Linked DNA regions of Homo sapiens: region 2 is linked to region 1. The links come from fine-mapping of genetic effects on gene expression. A gene starts in region 1. The other region holds a variant in brackets. All regions are shown on one strand. Distances are from middle to middle.

The links.
Region 2: its variant is fine-mapped to the expression of RASEF in iPS cells (HipSci, PIP 0.95).

The regions. Positions count from the first base shown.
Region 1 is chr9:83,058,284-83,066,624 of GRCh38, forward strand. RASEF (RAS and EF-hand domain containing) reads right to left here and starts at 4,859. Exons shown (of 17, transcript NM_152573.4): 1 at 4,154-4,859. The coding sequence starts at 4,584.
Region 2 is chr9:82,761,864-82,770,204 of GRCh38, forward strand. The region is part of intron 2 of LOC107987087 (a long non-coding RNA gene); the gene reads left to right. The region is part of intron 1 of LOC124902188 (a long non-coding RNA gene); the gene reads right to left. LOC124902189 (a long non-coding RNA gene) reads right to left here and starts at 1,900. Exons shown (of 2, transcript XR_007061609.1): 1 at 1,528-1,900. The variant TTTTA/T (reference allele first, on the strand shown) is at 3,929.

The DNA of each region.
Region 1 (8,341 bases):
ACCATTCTCCTGCCTCAGCCTCCCGAGTAGCTGGGACTACAGGTGCCCGCTACCACGCCCGGCTAATTTTTTGTATTTTTAGTAGAGACGGGGTTTCACCGTGTTAGCCAGGATGGTCTCCATCTCCTGACCTCGTGATCCGCCCGCCTCGGCCTCCCAAAGTGCTGGGATTACAGGCGTGAGCCACCGCGCCCGGCCGTATTTATGTCTTTCTTTGCCTCTGTCTCTCCTCTCCCTTTTCTATCTTGTCAAGCACCGTTTCATGTAAATTAAGGGAGCTGTGAAGCAACTACACTATTACAAAACAAGGCAATCATTCTGAAAAGGGCTAAACTAGAACCCAAGAAAGGGAAATGGAGAAGCAACCCTCACCAATACTGAAACTTCGCCTCTGCCTACTGGCAGCTACTTGTTTTTAAAAATTTCCCAATTAAATGGGATTGCTGTCCAATGGGTGAGCCTTTCCTCTTGAGTTTAATAAGGTAAGCCGTTTTGCCAATCTCTATACAATTCACATATGGAAAGTTTTGGTTCCTCTCAATTAAATTTGTTTTTAAATTACCAAATAAAAGAATCCCCTTCGACATCGTGCATGTAGAAACATCGCAAACCATGTGAAACAGCTAACGGTGCTGATTTTGACGTCTCAACAAATCCTAGCCTAGCACTGCCTGGCAGGTCACCCATCACTATACCTGCCACACCCTCAGGTACCTGACCTGAGGCTGTCCCTCCTTTGGATACTTTTGGGATACCTGTGCCCACTCACAGACCCTCAGTGGTTCCAGTGCCAGCTGCACCCTCACATTCCTGTTTGTGAGAATGTGGGGTTTTCTAAGTTAATTTATCAGCATGAATCAATTCACAGATAACACTCAAAATTGCTGCAAATGGGAGTTGAGAAAAAACTGAAAAGTTTCAGCTCTGACTAGAGGTCAGAGAAGAGGCCTTCATCCCTGCTCTCAGCCATCCATCAAATGCTCAATACACACACACACACACACACACACACACACACACAGCCTATTTCCTTCTCTTGGCAATCTTTGAACACCAAGACTGGCTCACAACAGTAACTGAAAAAAAAAAAAAAAAGTGAGAGAACCTGCAAAAGAAGTGGAGAAAATGCTCACAGCATGAACTACACTCTCTCTCAAAATGCAGATATATGAAACAAGAATCAAAGAATACTGATTTATTCTATTCATTTGGCAAACATTTACTGAGTATCTCCTGAGTATGAAACTCCCTTTCACCAAGACAATGACCCAGGCATCAGAAACTGGCAAGGCTACATTATAAGTTGGCTCTCTGCCCTGCCCCTCCACCCTCAACACCCACACATTTTCTTCCTACTTCCAGGACTTTTCTTGGCCTGGTAGCACCTGTCCTCCCAAATTCTCTTATGTAACTAAATCACACTGTCCTGCTGCCTTCACCTGTTGGCTGACCTTATCAAACTGACCAGGAAGTGGTCAAGGCCCATCCTGACCTTGCAGACCCTTCATATCTGCCAGGCTCAGCTTACCCGGTCACACAACTCCTTGGACACTCCTTCCTCAGCCTTCAAAACAAAAAGTCCCTCAATTTTCTAAGAGAAAATGAACTCAACAATGACACATATCCCAAAAGCTACTTTCATCCCTTCATGATGCAATATTATCTTCCCTCTAACATCACGATTACTGATGACTGGCGAGTTTAACCCAAAATTGCTTAATATTTTGCTTGAAAGATTCTTTAAATGAAAATCAACAGTGTCATGCTTTGCCTTTATAGGAACCAAACATTTTCCTATTTAATATCCGTTCCTCTCAAACTGGATGTGAACACTCCCCAGGATAGCCCTGGGGCAGACTGTCCCCAGGGATAAGATTGAGTGCCAGGTGGGAAACAAAGCCACAAGTTGGAATGGCACACCTTCCTAGAAAGACAATTCTCCCTTCAGAAGAAACTCTATTTTATATGAAAACAAGTCCCAAAATATTGTGTACAAAGATGAACAACTTAATCACTTTTTAAAGAAAAGCTCAAGACTTCAAAGAAAATTCTTGCTTGCAGCCGTCTGTTGGGCTATGTCCACAATACAGGGAGTTTCCTACAAATGTTCTTTGCCTTTAAATGTTCTTCGATGAAGTTGCTGGAAAAATGTTTCATCCACACCATGAGCATCTTGAGGGCATGAACTACATACTATCCTTCTCTTTGTCCCCAGCAACCTAGGACAGTACCTAAGCCAGTATTTGGCATATGGCAGGCAATTGGTAATGCTTATGGAATACATTTGGCTGAAATAATGCCGACAGCATTATCAATAACAAAAAAGTGTTTAAATCACATTTGGATGGAAGGAAGAAAAGGTCAACAGCTGTATGAGGAAGTGAAGTAGAATTAATCCAATTTACCAAAACAGCGGATGGCTGCCATGGTAACAATCTGATGCAGCAACTCAGTTTAGATCTCTTCCACTTGAACATGAGAGGAAGACAAATATTGTACTTGTTAATCTCACATCAGGAGGTGAGGCTTAGGACACAAGTCTACCAGGTGACACCGGTGCCCATTAAATGTAGTAATCTCTGAAGAATTTGGAAAGGCAACATGATAATAATAATTCCACCAATAATATTAATTCCTGGTTTGTACACTGACCCAGGTCATTTCAATCATTTAAGGTTGTGTGTGAAATATTTGTTGCTGAGACTAGACAACTGTGAAAAACAGATCCACATGTATGCATACATCATATCCAATATGATGTGGACTCACCCTGCCTCATTCCTAAAATTCTTACTTTTTTTAACTAGCTGCACCCAAACTAAGTTACAGATGAAAGATGACTCAAATAAAGAGTATAGGTTGTAGCAGTGTTTAAATTTTGCTACTTCCCTGGTTGGGGAGTAACTCATTTGTAAATAACAGAAAAGATCGTTACACACCCACTTTCTCTACACAACCCTTCTATGGCAGTGAGTCACTCTCCATGCCCAATATTCCCCTTACTTTCCAAGCTGGAGGGAGAAGTTGGGAGGAGAAGGAAGTGAGGGCTTCCAATGAACAAGCACACTGACAACCTTCCAGGGATACTTCCTTTTCAATGTTCTGTCTCAGATGTGCAAACTGCCAACCAAAATGATGCCTTTCAGAGCGTCTTAATAACGACAGCCAGAGCTCAGCAAAATTTCAGCTAAAATCCAAACATAAAGCAGAAAAACACTTAACAGCACTGAAATGTGTGTATCGCTGGGGCATGAAGTGAAAAATAGCAGCTGGAGACACCCACCACACCAAGGCATGGACAAATGCAAACGAAACTCAAAAAGAAAATCTGAGCCTCTCTCCCTCCAGGCCCTGAAATCCCACCTGCAGGCATCCCCTTACCTCCTGATAATTAAGTCCGTGACTTGACACGTTATTTCTGTCAGAGCAGTAAGAGCAGAGAATATACTGTGTCATTTTATCATTTTATTCCGTCACATAAAAAGTGAGTTTTTCAGTTCACAAAATTTGGGTCAAATCTCTGCTGTTTAACTGGGCAAGTCCCTTAACGTCTGTCTAATTTCTAGGTCTAAGTTCAGAAATAAGCTAGCCTACCTTCTAGGGATGTTATGAAAATTAAATGCGTGAACTCTGTAAAATGCCTAGCAGGTACATCAATCAATATTTGTGTCCAGCAATGTAAAAGCCCAACAAAGTTTCCTTTTCTATAGTCTTAGGAAAACGACAAATCAGAAAACTATTACAGAGGACGCCAAATTGGCAAACAGCCCGGGCCCCAGCCCTGGGGTGAGAGCCTAAGGCCTGGGGTAGAAGGTGACGTAACCAGGACGCGGTGAGATGTGGCGCGCGCGCCTAAACTCGCGCGGGGCGCCAGCAGCTGCAGATTTCAGGAGAGCTCCTGTAATGAACACGCCGCCCTTTGCAGGCTCAGGATTCAGCACGTAAAACTTTCTCCCCAAACGCTGACTCTCTGACTCCTTTTTCTTAACTCTAGCGGATCTTGGAAAAGTCAAAGCGAGTAGGTGAAGGAAGACAAGCAACTCACAGAGAAGACTAGGGGGGGGGGCCATTGGGTCTGCACACCTGCAAGTAAGTGGGAAGAAGCAAGCAGGAAGCGCCAGAATAACCTCCCGCCCCCAGCTCACACTCGCACCTGGGAATGAACTTGGCTTCGTCCCCAAGTCGCGCCTGGAAATCCTGCCAAGCCCGGCCGGGACTCGCCGGGCCGCACGAGGTGGCCAGCGCCGCCGCCGCGTCCTCGTCGCCTTCGTCCTCCTCGCTGTCGTGTGTCTCCGGCCCCGCCTCAGACACGGCGGGCGCGGGATCCAGAGGACCCCAGTCCCGGCGCCGCCCCCCGCGGAGGGACCCGAGGAAGCCACGCGCGAACTCCTGGAAGGTGATGGCGCCGTCACGGTCGGCGTCCAGCCGCTGGAATACTGCCTCGGCGTCGGCCGGCCGCACCCGCAGCTCCGTGCACAGTGCCCGGAACTCCTCGCGCTCCAGGCGCCCCGAGCGGTTCGCGTCGCAGGCGGCGAAGACTGAGCGCAGCCGGGCCAGCTCCTCTCCGTCCCCATCCGCCTCCATCCCGCCTGGCGGGGGCGGCCGAGAGGGCTCCGGAGCGCCGCGGGGCGCAGGGCCCTCCCTGGAAGGACGGGGCCACCTGCTGCCGCCGGGAGGCCCGGCGAGTTTGGCTCGTCCGGCTGGTTCGGCCACTTGAGGGAACGTCGGGCGGGGCGAGGAACGTCGGGGGTGGCCGAGCGGCTCCCTTCGACGACGGTTCGGGCCAGCCCCCAACAGGTCCCGGGAGCGGTGGGGTGCGCCCGGGCTCCAGGCACCGCCAAGGAGCGCCTCCTGCGACTGAGCGCCCAAGCGCCGAGGTGGCTCTCGCCACTTTCCCGGCGGGTGCAGCTCCGCCCAGCCAGGGAGGAGGAGCGCGCGCCACCGCTTCTCCAGTTCCCACGCCCCGGAGTCCACCGCTGCTTGCCGCGCAGGTGGGGGAGACCTGGCTGGCCGGAACTGGGATTCGGGGGGAGCATTGCCCTTCGGCGTAAGCGCTGCTCAGGTAGAGCCCAGCGCTCCGCTTCTCCACAGAACGTGCTGGCGCGCGCGTCAGAAGCTAACCGCACAGAGGTAAGGTAGGTAGGGGTAGGATTCCGAATGGGTTAAGTGCATTTTATTATCTTACTCCCGAAACTTGATAAACTTCTTTATATAGAAGTTTCTTACAAACCAAAGTACAAGATTTACCAGAAGACCCCATTCTCAATTTTACTGGCTTTCGTTAACGCATTTTTGTGCGTCTAACGTTAAGGTCCCACTGCTTAAACACAGATCTTCCAGATCTCCAATTCCACATTTTTTCTCAATCCTTGTCTCCAAAACCTGAGAAAAAATTTGATAAACAAAATCGTTTGGCAGACAGCATTGTTTAAACAAAGACTGAGGTCGTTTTGTAGGTTTTTTTACTTAAACAAACTTTATGGAAATTACATATCCAAAGGTAGGTTACCCTTTGGTTTTAAACACTTTTTTCGACAATACTATTGTTTCTTTAACACTGCTTAATGGATATGAGATCTTTAAAATCCACCCATTTTGATCCTTTTAAACACTTTTTCCATCCTTTTCCAGGAGACCCTCAGTCTGTCATACGGCTTATGTAACCGTGCCTTTAGGCGATTCTCATAGCCTGTGAAGATATATTTGGCTCATTTTTACTTTATTTACATTATCCATTTCCTCCACATTTTAGACTTTCTGACTCTGTATTTTTCTTTTATCTCATTCTGGATTCTCTTTATCGTTTATTACTTTGATTTTTTAAAAATGTGATCATTAAGTAAGGGATATTACTGACACGTTCCTACTAGGCTAGTGTTCTTAAACATAAAGCTAAGTGCTAAACATCTGGGGAACTATTTCCTCTTGAATTGTACAATAAACATGGTCAACACTAACAGCTTCTATTAAACTGTAACTACTACTGATAACCCCCATCTGAAAATTTAACTGGTAAATTATGAGAGGCATTCCATTAGAAGTCCTGGTCTTAGCAACCTAATTGCTAAGTGAATATAGTTGTATACAGTTGGACAGCTAATACAATGAATCTTATCATTAGTGCAATGTAAGTTGTTATTGATTTTGAGCTTATGTGCTTTCCTGTTTATTCTAAAGATTGATTTTTCCATATGAATTTAAAAGTAGCTGGCTTGGTAATGCCTTTAAAGCTTTACAAATATACTTATTAAACTAAATCTTTGAACTATTATTATATTTATACTGTTAGCAACTAATGGATATCTATGTCTTTAAAAATAGATGCTTTCATGTTTTTAACTGCTTAGGAAGAAGTGCTTTTTTGAAGATTGCTTGCACAACTTTATTCCTGAATTTTTACTCTGACCTTTGTGCTCATTTTTTCTGAATTCTTATGTTCTGTGACCTGCTTTGCCCTTTCCCTAAGCCCCTTCATTGAAGAGTCATCAAGAAACACGAATTGGCCTGGCACAGTGGCTCATGCCTGTAATCCCAGCACTTTGGGAGGCTGAGGTGGGTGGATCACTTGAAGTCAGGAGTTCGAGACCAGCCTGACCAACATGGTGAAAGCCTGTCTCTACTAAAAATACAAAAAATTAGCTGGGCGTGGTGGCGGGCACCTTTAGTCCCAGCTACTTGGATAGCTGAGGCAGGAGAATCACTCGAACCTGAGAGGCAGAGGTTGCAGTGAGCCGAGATCGCGCCACTGCACTCCAGCCTGGGCAACAGAGCAAGACTATGTCTCAAAACAAAAAACACAAAACAAAAACAAAAAACACACAAATTATTCCAAATGTCTTGTGCATGCATTTTTCTTATTCTTATTTCTACCAATATTAATATACTTCAGACCTCCGATATCAGTTATTTATCACTGCATAACAACAGTAGTGATCTAAAAGTGCTACCATTTTATTTGTTCATAATTCCATTATCATCAATTTGGGCAGGGCTCAGCTAGGTGGTTTGTCTGCTGGCTTGCCTGGGATCTCTCAGGTGGTTTTCTTGTTGACTCAACTGGGGCTGGATGGTTATAGAGTCTCACTCATTTTTCTGGAAGCTGGTGCTGGCTGTTGGCTGGGCCATGTGTCTTCAGGAAGCTAGCATGAGTTTTGTCACATGGTGGCAATGTTCCAAGCGAGTAAGCCCCAGTGTACAAGTGCTCTTCAAGCTTTAGCTTATGTCATATTTGCTGATATTCCATTGACAAGTCACATTGGCAAGTCACATGGCCAAGCCCTAAGTCAGTGTGGGAAGGGACTACAAAAAAAACAGGGATACAGAGAAATGTACTTCATTGGAGGCTCTTACTGTTACAATATACCATACCTAAGGTAAAGAGACAGCCTCTAATATATTCTCCCAGGCTCTTGTCCTAACATCCTGTTTATTCTGCACAACCACAGCTGGACAGTCCTTCTCAAACACCAATTATTCTATCATTCTCTACTCTTTAATTCTCAATCAGTCAACAATTTTGTTTCGCAGGGGACATTTGGCAGTGTCTGATGACATTTTTGGCTGTCTTAATTTGATAAGGGGTAGATGCTCCTGGCCTCTAGTAGGTAGCTGCAGGGATGCTACGGAATATCCTGTAATGCACAGGCCAGAGCCTCCCCTCCTTCCCATTACAAAGAATTATCTGGCCAAAAATGTCAATTGTGCTGAGGTTGAGGAAGCCTGTACCCTAACTCATAAACCCCCAGTGGTGCTCCAATAAAAAGAGAACTAAAGGTAAACTCTTAATCCGAGCATCCACAGCCCTCTGTAATTTGCTCTGACTACATAGATCAAATATTTCACCCTTTAGTCTCTATCATGGCTTTTATTGTCCCCCAAATAAGCCACACTTCATCACATGATTACGTTAGTAGCTCCTTACTATCAGGACAAAATGTAAATATCAAGCAGATCTTTTAGCTTTTCTCTCTTCTGTCTAACCAAACCATTTCCCAGCTTAAGTAAAAGAATTGGATCCTGCTTTTTCTACAAACGTTTACACAATTGCATTGTGACCTGCCACTCATAAATACATCACTTAGTGTGTATGTCAGTTCAGGTATCAGGCAGCAGGAATGTTTTTGAATAACCCCAGCAATATACTCAGGGGAAAGCCACGGTCATATAATCTGTCTCTAATTATTTTCAACAAACAGCAAAGAGAAAAGAAAGAAATAGGAGGTGCTTCTTTTTATTTTAGCATCCAGAAACAGCTAGCCAGGAACTGGAGATAACAGAGCAGGCTTTGAGAGCCAATGAATTAGTAGGTAAGGAGAGCTTGCCCATGATTGTCAGCATGACT
Region 2 (8,341 bases), 300 kb before region 1:
TTATGTTCAACTCATGGAAATTATGAGGGACAGTAAATGACCTAGGGAAAACTTACACACAACCTGAAAGCACACTGTAATTCTTTTCATGTGTCTATTTTCTTTTGTCTATTTCAGTTCTGTAAAATAAACTCACTTTTAAGATAAGCTATATTGCTCTTTTAGGCTGGGAAGATCTCAAAGCCTCTCTGTCTTTAAACTAGTATCTTCCCACCTCCCACCATCACCTCCCCAGCTGCTGCTGTTTCCCATTGCTGAAGAAATTCAGCTAGAATCTGTTATAACAGGAGGTGGGTTCCAACAGTCTAATTTCATCCAAGTGTGGATGCTGGGGACTCCCCCATCCATATGTCTCTCTCCTCCTGGAGGCTTCTGAATGTCCTGGGCTGTTGACAGAATGGCCATGTGGGGAAATTTGAATGTGGCTCAGCAAAGTCTACGGGACGAGCGGCCACCATGGCTGCTGGAAGATGCACCAGCAATATGCTGGCAGATACAGGTGGAAGGCTCTCCCCAGAGGGCTACATGGCTCATCAGGCAGGTGACAAGTGGGGTTAACTCTAGTGTTGATGGATGCCCTGCTGGTCCTTTGTGGTCTCCCACAGCCCTCTGGTGCTGGCAAGAGATGGTGCTGGGCTCTTTCTATTGATCCTGCTTTCCTCCAAGTCGTGCTCCAGATTTCATTCCTCCCCCCCATCCAGCTCCTGTTCCCTTTTCCCAGCCCAGTGCACCTTGACTAGATGGCCACATGTCCTAATTTGCGCAGGTCAGTCCTATTCTGCCTGTTTGGACCCAGTAAAATGATGTATAATGGCCGCTTTTACTCTCAACAGTGACCCATTTGGACCTTAGGTTATGTGGTCACCCTAATCTTGTCCATTCTTGGCAGGAAGGGCATTGTCTGAATCTCTCAGTCTTCTTTTGTAATCTGTTGCTACAGCACACACTTGCCACATTCTCTCCTAGAGGGCTTTATGCTTGGATTCGTAAGAGCACTCCCCTTTTTTTCTCCTCGAAGTCACTCTTGCAAATGAAAAGTTTTGGCTATCAAAGCCGGTTTGCTAGTTTCTGAGGCTGGCATCCCAAGCTTATTTTAAAAGCCCAAGATGGAACATTAGCTGCTTTGCTCTCTCACCTTGTGTCCCTGCCTCTCCTCAAGGCAGTGTAGATGACTGAACTATGGAAGGTGTCCTGTAGAGCGATGTCTAGAAAGTAACCCCAATGATTTGTATTCAATGCTATCTCCTCACCATGCTCTCACTTTCAAACCCCCATTTGCAACTTGCAAATCTCAAGGCATTGTCTTCACATTTTCTGTGCCTAGTGTAAGTTTTGTAGAAAAAAAAAATGATTGCTATTGTTATTATTTAGTGGCACACAGGTTATCTCCTATACCCCTCATTCTCCCCAGTTAGCAGATATGGTATATACACACACACACACACACACACACACACATGTATATACATATATATATATACACACACATATATATATATAGCTAGATGCATAGAGAAGTTAACTCACCTGTGCAAGATTACAAAAAGTGCCTGAGCCAAAATTTGACTCCAGAGTTCATGTACGTAAAACAAAAAGAGCTCCTAAAGACACAAAGCTTGCAGATCTGTAATTTGGCAGAATAATCAAAATGCAGTAGAAATTTTGTTCCTGAGAGAGTGGAGGGTATGGTAAATCCAATCAGAAATGCTTTATCATTTTTGTAGTTTTCTTCGAATGACTCCAGATCTTCCCAAAAGCAGCTTCCAAAGCACCTTTGCATCTCTCCCACTGACAGGATGGGCCTAAAGCCTCCTCTCAAGAATAGCTCTGTCTTCATACTTATTCACATCTGCATGAGTTTCAACTCTGAGGCAAGTTCTTTGCATAGAAAGGATCACCTAAAAGCAGCCCCACATCCTTCTAAACGGCAGAGTGTGAAGTGGTACCTGAGCTCCACCTACCGTGCTCCTTGAGGTTGTTTTAAATCAGGGAGCCCAGCTGGCCCAGAACCCAGATGGCTTTCCACTCCCCATGTGGCAGCCATCAGCTCTAAGACCCCAGCTCAGTGACCAGGCCATCAAAGAGGCTGCCAAGATCAGACAGGCTGTATTCTCTCACAGCTTTTTACAGGAAGCAAAGGAGCTAAAGGGAATAATGACAGAGGTAGCCTGCAAACGTAACCAGAGGTATGTATTTTAAAGGATGAATAAAAACAAATGACTATGTTGTAGAAATCTATTTCAGCATGTATGTGCATCAGAGTAGAAATCATTTATTTTCCTGGTCTCTCATGAGAGTTGATATTACAGTGCCTACATAGAATAACTAGCCATTATAAATGTAGAGTGCTTTAGGACTGTCAAAGCAATCACACCGAAATTACCCCAGTGATATCTAATCTCCATCATGCACTCAATATGTGCATGGACCTATACTGATAAGATGGAATTAATATCTCAAAGGCAAGAATTTTTTTTTTCCCTGATAGAGTCAGGTGTTTTGCAGTGATGGATGAGGTCAAACAGAATTTGTCAGAATTAACACAGCTGTTTCCGCATGTGGTGTTTGGGTTGCAATTCTCATTTGTGGCTTTTATTGTTCCCTTCTCCACATTTCAGCGCAATGGCAGATGTTTCCTAAGTGTATACCCCTCGTGTTACTTTACATCCCCTTGCAGGATGATACTGGGCCACAGCCTCCCATGGGGTTACAGCTAGAGAATCTTGTATAAAATATTTTTCCTTGATCAACGTAATATATGCATGTAGCAGAAAATCAAATAGAATAGACTGGCTTATAAAATAAAGTGAGAGTCTGTCACCTCCCCACTTTCTACTCTCCAAGGGCAATCATGTTTAACTATTTCTGTGTCTAGTTTTTTTGAGTGTTAGATACGGATCTGAGTGATCTATTTTTAGGACTAATTCTTGATGTATAGGCTTTAGCTATTCTCAGTTTAATGTCTTACTGATTGAAAAGAATACTTTTTAATATCTTCTTCCTCTCTTCTCAATTTTTGATGGCTATATCACTATTTTTTTGCCTCAAATTGTTACTTTTGTAACTAAAAATGAAATCCATAAGCCCTCATTTTGTGTTCCATACATTTTTGAAAATATAGACTGAATTCCCAACTTGTAAAACAAGAATTTAAAACACATCTATCCTTCCATTTCCCTCCCATCTTCCAATCTATTTTAAACATTTAAGTATAGCTCTTGTTTTAACTACATGTTGATTATAAAAATTGACAGGCACTAAATATCTTAGCAGGATTATAACTATATAAATATTGCTCATTGGAAAGTCAAAGACTATGTCATAGTCACATTTCATTGTCTGCGGTTCCCACCACCCTTCCTTCTGTCCTTGAAATCACAGTGTTCCTAGTATCAGTTACTGTCTCTAGTAAAAATTACAGTCCCTGATGAAATCTGTTTTTTCTTTCCCTGTACATGCATTAAAATCATTCCATATTTTGGTTTGGTTTGTATTTGGGCCATGATTGTGTATTTATTTCCTGGAATTTCTTACTTTCTTTTCTTACAGTTGAAAGAGTTATAACCTATCATGGTGTGCCTAATTCATCTGCAGGCTCTTCTGATTCTCCTTTGCTTAATAAACATCTCCATCTTTTGAAGATATTTACTCGCATCCCACTAACCCCACATTCTAATTTGGGCTCGCTGTTTTGTGAGCCTGCTGCTTAGCTGCTGTCTCGGGATTTCATCTTATTGGATTCATAATTTCCACGTTTCCCCCTTTTAGTGATGGACTATATGCTTGAGTAATATCCTCAGAAAAAGTGAATAAGAAGTAAGCTTCCCAAATTTTGTTTGATTTTGGTTTGCTCAAAATATGACTCTGTGTGCGTGTATGTGTTCATGGGTGTGTGTGTGTGTTTCTTAAATTCATCCTTTGTTGTAAT[TTTTA/T]TTTATTTATTTATTTATTTATTTATTTATTTATTTATTTATTTGACAGTTTTGCTCTTGTTGCCCAGGCTGGAGTGCAATGGCGAGATCTTGGCTCACTGCAACCTCCGCCTCCCAGGTTCAAGCGATTCTCCTGCCTCAGCCTCCTGAGGCATGTGCCACCACGCCCAGCTAATTTTGTATTTTTAGTAGAGACATGGTTTCAACATGCTGGCCAGGCTGGTTTCAAACTCCTGATCTCAGGTAATCCACCCATCTCGCCCTCCCAAAGTGTTGGAATTACAGGAGTGAGCCACTGCTCCCGGCATTGGGGTTTCGATCCTGTTATTTATTTCTCTAATAGTTTCCTCCTCTACATTCTCTCTGCTTGCTCTCTCTCTGGACTAATCTTCTATATTTTTTCATTTTTTGTCCTGGTATTTTCTTTCCCTTTCTTTTTGCTCCACATTCTGAAATTTATCAAACCTTTAAATATTGTTATAGCAATCATGTTTTCATATTCTAAGAATATTTGTGTCTTGTCTGTTCATTTCTTAACAATCTGTTCTTGTTTTATAGGTGACGTACCCTTTTGGCTTTCTGATAATCCCAATCACATTTTTTTCAATAACTTTAAAAATTAAAATGTTTCGGGCCCACGCGGTGGCTCACGCCTGTAATCCCAGCACTTTGGGAGGCCGAGGTGGGCAGATCACCAGGTCAGGAGATCAAGACCATCCTGGCTAACATGGTGAAACCCCGTCTCTACTAAAAAATACAAAAAATTAGCCAGGCTTGGTGGCGGGCACCTGTAGTCCCAGCTACTCGGGAGGCTGAGGCAGGAGAATGGCATGAATCCAGGAGGCGGAGCTTGCAGTGAGCCGAGATCATGCCACTGCACTCCAGCCTGGGTGAGAGAGCGAGACTCCGTCTCAAAAAAAAAAAAAAAAAAAAAAAATTAAAATGTTTCAAAATAATTTGGATTCGTCTGCAATAGTAAGAAATGACACACAGAGATCCCGAGGACACTTCATCCAGTTTCCCCCCAAAATATTTGCAAAACTATAGTTTAATATCACAACCAGGACACTGACAATTCACTCATTCTTATTTTCTCAGTTTTAAGTGAACGTGTGCACGTATCTTTAGTGTGCCTTTAGTTCTGTGCAATTTTATCACGTGTGGGTTTGTGTATCCACTACTACAGTCGTGACACTGAATCACCACAAGGATCCCTCATGGTGCCTTTTTACAATCTCCTGCCTTCATCCAAATCTCTTCCATCTCTACCTGACAACCACTAATCTGCTCTCCTTTTTTTACAATTTTGCCATTTTGAAATGTTATATGAACGAAAACTGTTCATTGGTACATTATGTTACATTTTTGGATTTGTTGTTTTTTCCTACTCAGTATACATTTTGTGGGAATTTATTCAAATTGTTATATACATTAATATTTTGTTCCTTTTTATTGTCAAGTGGTATACTATGGTATGTATGTAACAGTGCATTCCTTTTTATTGTTGAGTACTATTCCACAATCTATATGTAGCACAGTTTATTTAACTATTCACCAGCTGAAGAACATCTAGGCTATTTCCCATTTTTATTATTGTGAGTAAAGCTGGTATGAAGATTCATGTACAGGTTTTGTGTGAGCATGTTTATTTCTCGAACAGACACCCAAAAGTGCAATTGCTGGGTCATGTGCTAATTGCATGTTTAGTTCTATAAGAAACTGCCGAACTATTATGAGTGATCTGGTTTCTTCACATCCTCATCAGCATTCTGTGTTGTTACTTTTTTTTTTTATAGATGTGTAGTAATATCTCATTGTACTTTTTTTTTTTTTTTTGATATGGAGTCTCACTCTCTTGCCCAGGCTGGAGTGCAGTGACGCTATCTTGGCTCACTGCAAGCTCCACCTCCTGGGTTCACGCCATTCTCCTGCCTCAGCCTCCCGAGTAGCTGGGACTACAGGCGCCCACCACCACACCCAGCTAATTTTTTTTGTATTTTTAGTAGAGACAGGGTTTCACCGTGTCAGCCGGGATGGTCTCGATCTCCTGACCTGGTGATCCGCCTGCCTCGGCCTCCCAGAGTTTTGGGATTACAGGCGTGAGCCGCTGCACCCAGCCCATTATACTTTTAATTTGCATTTCTGTCATGGCTAAAATGATGCTGAACATCTTTTCCTGTGCATATTTGTCATCTGCATATCCTCTTTGGCAAAATGTCTCTACATGACTTGTGCTCATTTTCTAATTGGATTGTTGGTTTTTTACTGCTGAGTTTGAGAGTTCTTTAGATTTTCTAGATGTTAGTCTTTTATTGGATAGGTGGTTTGCAAATATTTTCTCCCAGTTGGCAGCTTTCCTTTTAGCCTCTTTATAGGGGCTTTAGAGAGCAAAAGTTTAAATACTGATAAAGTCCAAATTATTAATTTTTTTCTTTTTTCCTTTTAATTCATGGTTTTGGTGTCAAGCCTAAGAAATTATTGCTAGCCCTAGGTCTGGAAGATTTTCTCCTATGTTTTTATTTTCTAAAAGTTGTATATGTCTACATTTTACATTTAAATCCACCATCCATTTCGAGTTAATTTTTGTTTAATGTGTGAGGTTTCAGTTGAGGCTTTTTTTTTTTTTTTTTTTTTTTTTTGCCTATGAATGTCCAGTTGCTCCAGTACCAATTGTGGGAAAGACCATACTTCTTTTAGTGCATTGCTTTTGGACCTTTGCCAAAGTCCATTGGACATATTTGTGTGGGCCTATTTCTGGATACTCTATTCTGTCTCACTCATCTATGGGTTTCTCCCTCTGCCAATGTAATACTGTCTTGATTACTGTAGCTATACAGTAAGCCTTAATATGTGATACAGTGACTCCTCCTACTTTATTCTTCTTTGTCAAGGTTGTTTTAATTATTCTACGGCTTGTACCTTTCCATATAAATTTTAGAATAAGCTCATCTATGTCCATAGAAACCCTTGCTTGGATTTTGCTAGGAATTACATTAAACGTATAGATCACTACAGGGCAGAACTGACATCTTTACTATATCTAGTCTACCAATTCATGCACACCACATATATCTCCATTTATCTAGGTCTTCCTTGATTTCTTTTAACAGCATTTTGTAATTGTCAGCATACATACGCCATATATGTTTTGTTAAGTGTATTTCATTTTCTTTGGAGTGACTGTAAATGGTATTGTACTCTCCATTTTGATTCCCGCATGTTCATTGTTAGAATATAGAAATACATTTGGTTTTTTTTTGTTTCTTTTGTATGCTATGACCTTACTGAACTTATTAGTTCTAGGTATTCTTTTGTGGATTCCTTGGAATTTTATACATAGACAATCATGTCATCTGCAAATAGAGACAATTTTACCGCTTCCTTTCCAATCTGTATGTTTTTTACTTCATTTTCTTGATTCATTTCAGTATCTAGAACTGTCAACACTATTTTGAATAAGAGTGGTGGAAATGAACATTCTCACCTTACACATGATCTTGGGGTAAAGCATTTAGTCTCTTGCCATTAAGTCTGTTGCTAGTTGTAGGATTTTGGTAGATGTTATTTTTCTTTTTCTTTTTTTTTTTATTATACTTTAAGTTTTAGGGTAAATGTGCACATTGTGCAGGTTAGTTACATATGTATACATGTGACAAGCTGGTGCGCTGCACCCACTAACTCGTCATCTAGCATTAGGCATATCTCCCGATGCTATCCCTCCCCCCTCCCCCCACCCCACAACAGTCCCCAGATTGTGATATTCCCCTTCCTGTGTCCATGTGATCTCATTGTTCAATTCCCACCTATGAGTGACAATATGCGGTGTTTGGTTTTTTGTTCTTGCGATAGTTTACTGAGAATGATGATTTCCAACTTCATCCATGTCCCTACAAAGGACATGAACTCATCATTTTTTATGGCTGCATAGTATTCCACGGTGTGTATGTGCCACATTTTCTTAATCCAGTCTATCATTGTTGGACATTTTGGTTGGTTCCAAGTCTTTGCTATTGTGAATAATGCCACAATAAACATACGTGTGCATGTGTCTTTATAGCAGCATGATTTAGTCCTTTGGGTATATACCCAGTAATGGGATGGCTGGGTCAAATGGTATTTCCAGTTCTAGATCCCTGAGGAATCGCCACACTGACTTCCACAATGGTTGAACTAGTTTACAGTCCCACCAACAGTGTAAAAGTGTTCCTATTTCTCCACATCCTCTTCAGCACCTGTTGTTTTCTGACTTTTTAATGATTGCCATTCTAACTGGTGTGAGATGGTATCTCATTGTGGTTTTGATTTGCATTTCTCTGATGGCCAGTGATGATGAGCATTTTTTCATGTGTTTTTTGGCTGCATAAATGTCTTCTTTTGAGAAGTGTCTGTTCATGTCCTTTGCCCACTTT